2 separate regions of the Homo sapiens genome follow, and region 1 is reported to be linked to region 2. Evidence: microRNA targets listed by miRTarBase, many of them from high-throughput screens and not tested one by one. Region 2 holds a microRNA gene; the other region holds the end of a gene's coding sequence.
The links. Region 2 holds the annotated microRNA hsa-miR-7515 (AGAAGGGAAGAUGGUGAC, at 3,018-3,035, opposite strand). A microRNA usually pairs through its seed, bases 2 to 8, with sites in the 3' UTR of a target mRNA and lowers its output. Matches are read on the target gene's strand: a 7mer-m8 pairs with bases 2 to 8, a 7mer-A1 pairs with bases 2 to 7 and ends in A, and an 8mer does both.

Region 1: the mRNA of CTXN1 is a reported target of hsa-miR-7515. Seed matches in the 3' UTR shown: 7mer-m8 at 949-955 and 7mer-m8 at 998-1,004.

Annotation. Positions count from the first base shown.
Region 1 is chr19:7,921,064-7,926,063 of GRCh38, reverse strand. CTXN1 (cortexin 1) reads left to right here. Exons shown (of 2, transcript NM_206833.4): 1 at 1-97; 2 at 506-1,573. The coding sequence starts at 526. The coding sequence ends at 774. SNAPC2 (small nuclear RNA activating complex polypeptide 2) reads right to left here. Exons shown (of 5, transcript NM_003083.4): 2 at 4,522-4,641; 3 at 4,291-4,359; 4 at 3,717-4,029; 5 at 2,814-3,619. The coding sequence ends at 3,300. It overlaps LOC124904629 (a long non-coding RNA gene), which reads right to left and starts at 659. Exons shown (of 2, transcript XR_007067120.1): 1 at 228-659. RefSeq lists silencers at 1-14, 545-634 and an enhancer at 3,896-4,498.
Region 2 is chr2:6,648,136-6,653,452 of GRCh38, reverse strand. It overlaps MIR7515 (microRNA 7515), which reads right to left and starts at 3,080; the gene lies at 3,014-3,080. It overlaps LINC03156 (long intergenic non-protein coding RNA 3156), which reads left to right and starts at 2,934. Exons shown (of 2, transcript NR_110497.1): 1 at 2,934-3,347; 2 at 4,072-4,346.

The DNA of each region.
Region 1 (5,000 bases), not on the chromosome of region 2:
CCGCCGCCGCCGGGGAGAGGCCGAACGCGCAGCCGGCGCGGGTCCCTGAGAGAGCGCGGCCGCCGGGCGGTCGGTCCCCGTCCGGGTCGAAGCCAGGGTGAGGGGCGCGCCGGGGCGGGGGCGGTGGGGGAGGGGGTCCCAGGCCGCCGAGAACAAAGGGAGCGGGGGCAGGGGCCGCGGGGACCGTCCCCACGCCGCGCGCCCGGGCCGCGGCCGCGCTTTCGCACCTGTTGTGTGCGGCCCAGGCCGGGCGCGGCTCCGTTTCCCGGCTCTCAGCGCCCCCACCTGCGCGCACGGCCAGAGTTGGGTCCCCGCGTGGTGGTGGCGGCGATCCGGCGGGCCGGGCATGGGCGTAGCCCGGGGACCGAGGCGCGGGCGGGGGATGGGGTCGGGCACGTTAAGGGAGGCGGCGGCGGCGGCGGCAGGAGGGGGCGAAGCGGAGGAGGCGCGGGAGGGAGGGCGCAGCCTCATCCCCGGCGCCCGGGGCGGGTCCCCTCCTCCGCAGGGCGCGCGGCGATGTGAGCCATGAGCGCGACGTGGACGCTGTCGCCGGAGCCCCTGCCGCCGTCGACGGGGCCCCCGGTGGGCGCGGGCCTGGACGCGGAGCAGCGCACGGTGTTCGCCTTCGTGCTCTGCCTGCTCGTGGTGCTGGTGCTGTTGATGGTGCGCTGCGTGCGCATCCTGCTCGACCCCTACAGCCGCATGCCCGCCTCGTCCTGGACCGACCACAAGGAGGCGCTCGAGCGCGGGCAGTTCGACTACGCGTTGGTGTGAGGGGCGCGGCGCCCCCTAGCCGGCCCTGCGCCGGGGTCTCAGAGGGCCGGCCCGGCGGGGGGCGCCGCGGGGCCAGGACTGCGCTCAGGATCCCGCCCCGGAGCCCCCAGCCCGGGGGAGAGGGGGAGGGAGTTGGGAGAAGCCCAGCCCCTCCCCCTCGAGACCCCTCCCATGTCCCTTCCTGGCCTGGCCGGAGCCCCACCTCGTGCCTTTATCCGCCCTGTCCCTTCCTCTCTGCGCATCTCACCCGCCCGGCTGGCCCCCACCCCCGACTCTGAATCCCGGGCGGGAGGAGGACCCCCGCACCGCCCCCTCCCCAGCGTGTAAGTGGCTCTGCTATTGTGCGTCCCTGGAAGTGGGGACCCCCTTGTCCCTCCTCCCTCCCCTGTTGTCTGGCCGTCGTCAACCCCACCTTGACTGAGTGTTGAGCCCGTCCTTGGGCTCTGGTCCCTGCGGGGCAGGCTCTCCCGGGCCCACGGGGCGGACGCTGCATACCAATTTGCCCTGCACCGCCTGTCCCGGAGACGGAGCCCGAAGGCCTGCCATGGCGGCTGTGTCGAGGATGCGTGGCGCCTGCCGTGGCGGGACAGCGTGGGCAGGCTCATTTCTGCCCCCAACCCGGGCCCCAGGACAGGTCAGCGCGCCCTGCCCCGGTGCCCACCGCTGCCCCCCATCCGCCCTCCTGCCACTTGCCCCTGACCCCCCTGCCGTGCCTCCCGCAGCCCTCCCATGCCGTTCCACTCCTCCCTGCCTCTGAGCCGAACATGATAATAAAAGCTATTATTGAGCGCTTACTGCATGCCAAGTAGCGTGCTGAGTTGGCACCTCCTGTTTATAGCCTGTCTCCTCTTCGGGATCGTGAGAATGAGCCAGGCCCTGTTAGCATCCCTATTCTACAGGCCAGGAGACCGAGGGCCAGGCAGCTCCAGTGACTGACTTGCCCACAGTCACATGGCTAGAGTCTGGTAGGGCTGGAAGTGGAACCCAGGTCTGGCTTTTGCATGTTTTTAAAGCTTCCCAGGGCTGCAAAGACACCAAGATCACAAGCACCTTTCACCGGCTTTGGGGGGGGGGGCTGATGTGTAACCCCCAGCTGCCTCCCCTCCACACACAATTCTGTTGATCTGGGGAGGCGCCGGGGGTGGTGAGAGAGACTCAGCCCTGTGGGGAACTGGGAGGCGCACCCTCTGCCAGCCCTGGAGGGAGGCTCCGACGACCGACCGTACCTGCAGCCTAAGCCTCCTCCCCCTGCCCACCACCATTGGCAGCGTTTGTGGGTCTGGTGCGGTGGGGCGGTGACCACGGACGGAGTGGGCTGGCTGTGCTCCAAGGCCCTCCCAAGAGATGTGCACCCCAGGGGAGCCGTGTGCAGTGTGTGGGGGGAGGAATGAGCGTTTCTATAAAAGGCAGGCTGGGTGAATGCACAGGCTCCGAGAACGGAGAATTTACCGACTTGGATTACTAGCTGGGCGTGGGACGCGGTGCCGTGGGAGGACATCTGCTTCCCTCTCTAGGACCCGACCCTCGGTCCACACCCACAGGGCAGGTGAAGCTGATGGAGGGGGCCTCAAGCGGGGTCCCAGCACCCCCAGGGGTTTGGGGTCAGCCCTGACTCCAGTACCCCTCCCTCCCCGCCTTCTAGGGATCCTTGAGGTCCCAAAGCCACCCCAGGGGACACTCCACTCCCACTAGCCTCCTGCCACTCGGGGCAGCCCACCCCTATCTATCTTCCTCTAACCGCCCAGCCTGGGGCTCAACTCCTTCCACCGGGTCACCCCCACTCTCTGCTGCCTTCTCCCCTCCACCTGTGCGATGTGATTTTGCCCTACTCTGAAACCCATCCCTGACGCCTGTCCCCAAGGTGCCCTGCCGGCTCTCCCCATCCACACTTGTCAGCTTCACAGTCACCAAGGGGCTCCTCACCCCAGGCCTCATCACACCAGTCAGGTGGCAGCTCTCCTCCCTGGCACACACCCCCAGCCCTGTGACCCCCAAGCTCTGACACTTCAGGGCCCCCACTTCCATCTTTAAGTCACAGGTGAAAGAGAAAGAGAATGATAACTTTATTCATGGTCACAGAATACCCCCGGGAAGGGGAAGGACCTGGCAGCAGGGAGTAACCACGACTGGTCAGTTGAAGAAGGTGAGGATGCTGGCCCCGAGGTGTACAGGAAGGGGGAAAATGTGCGAGGGCCTTTACGGTGGGCAGTGCCAGCTATGGCCCCCCAGCAGACAACAAGGCACAGTGGGGCTTGGGGACTGGGGGAGGCCAGCCCTGTCCGCCTGTCCTTGACATCAGGAGGCTTGTGAGTGGAGTCCTGCAACCCCCACCCAACCCCTGTACAACGGGGGTTCCATTTCTGAGACCCCCAAAGTATGGGGCATCTTAGAGGCCCGCCCCACAGCTGAGCATCATCTCAAGGACCTTCCCCCATGACGGGATCCTCAGAAAGAGCCAGGGCCAGCCGAGCAGAACCGAGGGGCAGGGCGGGGGGCCTGGTGTGGCCTCCTGCCCGCCATGCCCCTCACCTGGCAGGGGTGGCTGCCCGACCCAGAAGCTCCAGGGGCACCAGGAACGGGTTCAGGGGACAGATCCCAGCTGCTTGCCAAGGCGATTTCAGTTCGCTGTGCTCGGCCTTCTCGGTGGCTGGGGGGGTCTCCTCTGGTGCCTTGGAGCCAGCCCCATCCCCTTCTGCTGCAGGCCCCAGGCTCCCTCCAGCGGGAATGGGCTGGGGGGCTGTCAGGCGTAGGTACGTCTCCGTCATATGCTCAACCAGGGCTGTGCAGGGCAGGAGTGGCAGCTCCTCTGGAAGTGACATGAGCAGGTCGAGGACCACAGCGGACTCTAGTGATGGATGGAGGAGAGGGGTAAGGGGACACCCCTGCCTGCTGCCAGGGACCCTTGATCCCTCTGCTCCTGCCCCCTCCCTCACCCTTCTCACCAGCTGCTGAGAGCTCGGGGCTGCGGCCACTTCGGGAGACAGAGGACAAGTACTTGTAGATCTTCTCAAAGTCCACAGCAAAGTCTTCTTCAGTGGAGGGACCAGCCGACGACTCAGAAGGTTTCTCAGGGGCAGGGTCAGGAGTCCTGGGTGCGGAGCTAGGTGCAGCAGGGGCAGAGCTAGGTATTTCAGGGGCGGGGTCTTCCTGTCCTCCAGGGGCGCTCAGGAGCAAAGGCTTTCCACGGGCCTGCGTGGGCTTGGGGGGCTTGGAGTGCAGGAGGGTGACCGGTTCCGTGGCCGCGATGGTGAGCACCTGGCAGGCAGAACAATCAGGGAGGAAGAGGAGCTGGGAAGTCTTCTCACCGTCTACACATTCCCCCATCCTCCCTGCCACCCTAAGATGCTCCTCAGACAAGAGATGGCCTCAGAGCCAGGGACACTGAGGCTCGAGGTGTCCAGTGACTGACGGAGTCCACAGAGCTGGCAAAAGGGCCCAGGACCCAGGTTCACATGATTTGGCCCATGTGACCCTGTCCTCTGGGACACCCTGACCTGCCTGGGGGAATGGCGGTACCTGCGAGAAAGCCACTGCCAGGGCTTCTTCCAGTGGCCCTGTTATCTTCTCAGCCAGATCCGTCCAGACCTGAGTGAAGCCAGAGGTACAGGGTCAGCCCAGGGATCAGCCTGCAATGGCCCCCCAAGCCCTGCTCCTCCTGGGGATCCCCTAATCAGGTTATCCCCCGCAACTCCCACCTACCCACCAGGGACCTGCCCTGGACAGCCTCACCCTGTTCATCTGCCTCACCTCTATGGGGGCTGGGGGCTGTGCCTCCCGGCGCCTTGGTCCCTGAAGGCCACCCGGATGCACTTTCTGAATGGCCTCCCGGGCTACGCGGCCCTTGAGCTGCTGGAGGAAGACCCGGATCTAGAAAGGAAAGAGGCGGCGGAATGAGGCTTCTATGAGCTCAGGGCTGCAGCAGAGAAGCCAAAGCCCAATCCCTTGTATGCTCTGGGCCCCGCTACTGCGCCTTAGTCTCCTGCTGGCCCGGTGTTAGGAGTCCCAGTGACTGCCAAGGCCCCTACCCCACCCAGAGCGTGACCAGCTACCTAAGGAAGTTGTAAGGCCCAGGCCAGTTCCGGCTCCTTCACGCAGCCAGGGCCCAACCCTATGCTGACTACTACCCCGTTCAACTCCCTTCTTCGTCCCCTCTTCTCTATTCCCTCTCACTTCAAGCTCGTATCCTGTCCAACAGCATGCGTTGCTTTTCGCCCGGACTCGGCAGC
Region 2 (5,317 bases):
CTACATGAGCCTGTACAGAGAGCATCTCCAATCTCATGAATTTTAGAGTATGTTCCACAGAAATGCAGAAACCAATTCAACGGCAAGGAGTTGACACACAGCTCATAATCCCTGTCTAGTCAGTATGAAAATCTGTCTGTGCAAGGAATGCAAAATGTAGTCACGCATGGAGTCATGGGATATCAGGAGTGTTATTTTACCAGATCAGAGGTAGTGCTTTACTGACATGAAGTACTTAAAGTGGAATTGCTTTTCTGGGTTGAAACATGTGTATGTGCTCAGCTAATTTCAATCAGCACTGTTTAGTTGTTGTGCTTTGCTTTTTGAAACTTTCTGAAACCAATTACCTTCTCAATTGCTTCCATGATATCTCTTTCAGAGAGTCATGGGTTCTGATTTTGGAGTCAGGAGTTGGGAGCGGCGTTGTAGCTTGTCCGTGAGCTCAGGACCCTGAATTACTCGACTTATATGCCCAGCGTGGGGGCCTCCTCCACTTGCTTGAGTACCTGGCTCCCGAGTCCTTCATCAGTTGACTGTCTAGGTTGGAAATGTTTCCATGATCTGAAAACATCCATTCAGTCTTATCTAATGTATCCTTTCTTCTTTGGGCTAAATGTTAACAGATCCTTCGTTCATTCTTCAAATACAGCTCAGTTCCCAGGGCTTTCTTCTGCACAAATGAGTCAAAAGCGCTGCTGCATCCAACAGTGAGAAAGCAGATGTGTCCCCCTCATTCAGAACACCCAAACTCTCTTACTGTGGCTTAAGGGGCTATAACCTTCTGACTCACCCTTCATACCATAAGCTCATGCAGACTGCAAAGCTAACTAATGCTAACCATCCTTCCTGGTTGTTTTTAAAGCAATTTCTATTAAACCTATTTAGTCCACCTTTAGGCAGTTGCCTTCTGAATTCAGGTTCATACCATTACATTTCCTCCTGCTGCAATGTTATTTTCAGCCTGTCTTTCAAGCCTGTCCAGATTTTTGTGAACGCTGTTACTGAGTTTGCATGCACAAGGTTCCTCTCACAGATGAATCATGCCCAAATTTGACAAGTGTACTTTCTACATCTTCCACTACAATTTCTAAGAAACGAATAGGCTTCTACTGACATTAGTGAGTGGCATAAGCCTGAATGAAATAGACTATGACTCTTGACTGGCTGAATATACAATAAAAGCATAAAACACAAAATGCTTTTCCAACATAGATGCTAGAAATGAGAGTAAAGCTAAAATTCCCCAGCCATACACCCCATGTGGGCTCCAGCACTCTACGTTTAGCTGCCCAGATATCAGCACACATGGCTGTGATGGAGCCAGGAGGTGGGTGCTTCAGTCTTGACTTCCCCACTTTCTATCTTGTGTCCCACCATCTAACTTGTTTTGGGCAAGTCAGTTTTTTTGAGCCTACCTTTCCTCCTCTATGGTGTGTGGGTAGTAACACCAGTCAGACTTAACCTGAAAGTTGTGTGAATGAAAAGCATAATCTGTATGTCAACCCTGAAGATATACGTATGTCAGAAATTACTATAAAGAGATCATCAGCTGGGCACGGTGGCTCACACCTGTAATCCTAGCACTTTGGGAGGCCGAGGCGGGCAGATCACCTGAGGTCAGGAGTTCGAGACCAGCCTGGCCAACAAGATGAAACCCTGTCTCTACTAAAAATACAAAAATTAGCTGGGCGTGGTGGCGGACACCTGTAATCCCAGCTACTCGGGAGGCTGAGGTAGGAGAATTGCTTGAACCCAGGAGGCGGAGGTTGTGGTGAGCCGAGATGGCAGCATTGCACTCCAGCCTGGGGAACAAGAGCAAGACTTCATCTGGAAAAAAAAAAAAAAAGAAAAAAAAAGAGATCATCATTAATTTCCTTTCATCTCATGATGTAGAAACATTTAGATGTTGGGATCCTTCCACATACTTATCTAAGAAAATCTCTGGCTTTTTTTTTTTTTTTTTTTTTTTTTGAGATGGAGTCTCGCTCTTGATGCCCAGGCTGGCGTGCAGTGGCACCATCTGGGCTCATTGCAACCTCTGCCTCCCGGGTTTGAGAAATTCTCCTGCCTCAGTCTCCTGAGTATCTGGGATTACAGGCACCCGCCACCACGCCTGGCTAATTTTTTAAATATTTTTAGTAGAGACAGGGTTTCACCATGTTGACCAAGCTAGCCTCAAACTCCTGACCTCAGGTGATCTACCCACCTTGGCTTCACAAAGTGCTGGGATTACAGGCATGGGCCACTTTTCTATTTGTTTATTTTTGTGTTGGTTTTTCTATTTTTGGTGTTTCTGGATCATGGACTTTGAAAAACTTCCTGGCTTAGCAAATTAGTGTCCTTGTTTCAGTAGCTTCTGCTTGAAGATTTCTGCTGTAGGCAATGAGCCAACTGGCCAGAAAATATCCAGTTATGCTCTGCAGGTTCATGGTGGATGGGGACTTTCACTGTTGTTTAGAGAAACCATTGAGTGGATAACGTTCCAAACAGCAAAATCAAATGGGGATTCTGTACACTCGGGAGTGTCGGCTCTGGACAAATTAGGTTGCACTTGATTGTAAGAAGCCAGGCTTTATTAAAATAGAATATAAATATTAACAGAAACGGACTGCTTCTAATCCCCACTACCGTTGGCCAGGGAGGCCTCTCTTCAGGTTTTCTGAATGGAACTAAATAAGGAGCCCATGTTACCGCGGAAAGGGCACTGTGATTAGGAGCCTTTCATGAGCTTCCATGAACGTCTAGGGCTTGGAAACTTCATTTTCAAAATAAGGCTGTTGGATTAGATGATTTTCCCAACCCCTAACCCTCTGTGTTAATGAATGGACTGACTCTATAATCATGTTCCTTGGACATTTCTATGGAAACACTGAGCCATCATAAGGGAGGCCTTCATTCTGATGTAACAAAGCCAGCTGTGTCCACATGAGAACATTGGCAAGAGTGGGGACATGGAAGCTGTGTTCAGGCCGGTCCACGCTGGGTGACCCATGTGACCTGCTGCTTAGCAATTCCTTGTCACCATCTTCCCTTCTCAGCCTCTTTTTTCATGCTAACAGGCATAAATGAAATGATAAAAGTTTGAGCTCTTCTCGTGGAATTCTCGTGATACAGATATGTGCTACATGTTCATCATCTCGTTGGTCTTCACCATGATAACTGTGGAGTAAGAATTATAAGCAGGTCACAGATTAGGGACTTGAGATTGACAGTTTGGCTTCCCTGTTCTGGGTGGCAAAGCCTGTGGAGTACTCACCTACCTGCTGCATGAAGGCAGCATGGAGGGACTGTGGTGGATTATCTGCAAAGATGGCCAAAATTCTCTCATCCCTGCAGGCACATACAAGGTAAGAACACCTTTACCAGTGGAATGTGATGAAAATGCTGCCCAGACAATTCTAGACAGGGCCTTAAGAGGTCTAGATGCTTCCACATTTGCTTTCTTGGGAGCTCTGAGTTATCATGTGAGAACCACCAGTCTCCCCAACCTGCACCCTAAGCTCATTATCCACAAGGCTGTGCAAAATAATAAATCACTGTTGTTAGGACGCAAAGTTTGGTAGTGGTTTGTTATGTAGTCGTGGATAACTGCAGCAGGGATCTCAGCAACTTTTCTTCTCTGAACTAATGTTTAAAGTCAGGATGTAACATATTGTCTCCATGTGACTTTGTTGAACTAAATAAAGAATGCTAATACCAGATGCGGACCCTGCCTCTTCTGTTCTCTAAGACTAGGCATTGCTCTCTGATCAGAAGAGTCAATCCTGGTGAGTTTAACTTGAGCCTCAGAATCCTACTCAACACAAAGTTCCAGAGAGAAGCGATTATCAATGCCAATACCTTAGAGATGGTACTGGCTGTGGAATCTGTCATCCCTTGACTAGGTGGTCTCTAAGTTCCTTTCCAATTTTAATGTTTTCTGTTCTGATTTATCTTTTGGCATTGTGCAGGTGTCAGGAGAAAAAAATAATGCCAATGTGTCTCTTTAATTCCTTTATCATTAAGTCATAACCTTTCCCAACTCCCAATCCAGTTTTCTTACGTCAATACTTTGGTTTTTGCTTTGTGAAGATGCCAGAATCAGTCAAAACTAAGCTCACTGTCCTTGCTAATATTCTGCCCCAGAGAAGAACTGAAGCTCAGCTCTTCACCCTACAGAAAGCCTGAATTTTGTAAATGTTCTGCTTAGAATGAGGAAGAAAGATGAAGAATGAGGAGGAAGAAGGAAGGAACGAGAGAGAGGTAAAGCCAACAAGCAGAACAGACCTACATTTGCAGCATCTCCAAGTTTCTGCAACAGCATTATGTTGTTGTTATGTTTTGTTTTAATAAAAGCACATACCATTTTTTTTGTTACTCTTATATTCTTTTCATAACAGCTCAGCTAAAGACAGATAATGCTGGAGTCAGCTTTTTCTAAGAATTAGTCTCTTCAAACTGGCCATAGAGATTTGGTAGAAGTCATGGGTTTTAATTGAATTTCTCCTAATGGTCTCCCAGGGATGGAAATATGACTGATACAGGCTTACTTTCCCTCTCCCCTCGGTGAAGCTGTATTGCCTCCCACAGAACAGACCGTTCTTTATGTTCTAACCGGGCTTTTCATAACTCCACTGGAGAGCTGTACAAACCCTAGACTTGGCAACGGCTTTTTTGTTTTCTGAAGCCAGACCAATTCTGGACCCAGTTCCTGCTTTCTAGGAAGAAATAGCACATGCAACCAGCCTCTTCACTGATGAAAAAATACCTCACTCCTTTTTAGACAGCTTCTCGTATTGATAATTTTATAGAAATGTACTGTATAAGTGAAAGTCAGCATTTCCATTACACAACAGCCTGCTAGAGCTGCTTCCAAGGGGCAGAGACTCCTGTCGGCTGTTTGTCCGAGGTGATCTTCCTCCCTTAATCTGTCAGTCTAGACCTTAACAATGTTCCTCAAATACCGGCTCAAGTCCTTCCTTCTCCCAATAACTTTTCTATGGTCTCTGGACCTCCTTAGTCTTCAGTGCCGCTCCTCCTAAGTTTCTGCACCACCTGCCTTCAACACCTAGTCTGTGCTGTAAGCATGAGTTTTCTTGTGGCTTCTTTTTCTCAAGGCAGGCTGGGCGTGGGGAGCTGTCTCTGCAGCATCTTTTGAATATAGATGCCATTTCTCACTTTTCTTTTCTCTGTACCCTCTATAGTCCATTGAAAATACTGGGCAATTGATAAATTCATGCTAAAAAGGACGATGATCAAGGTAGGGCCAAGCTGCATGGATGAGGGAAGAGTTGCCACCCACACTGGGCACCACAGGTTCCCTGCACAAGTCACTTTC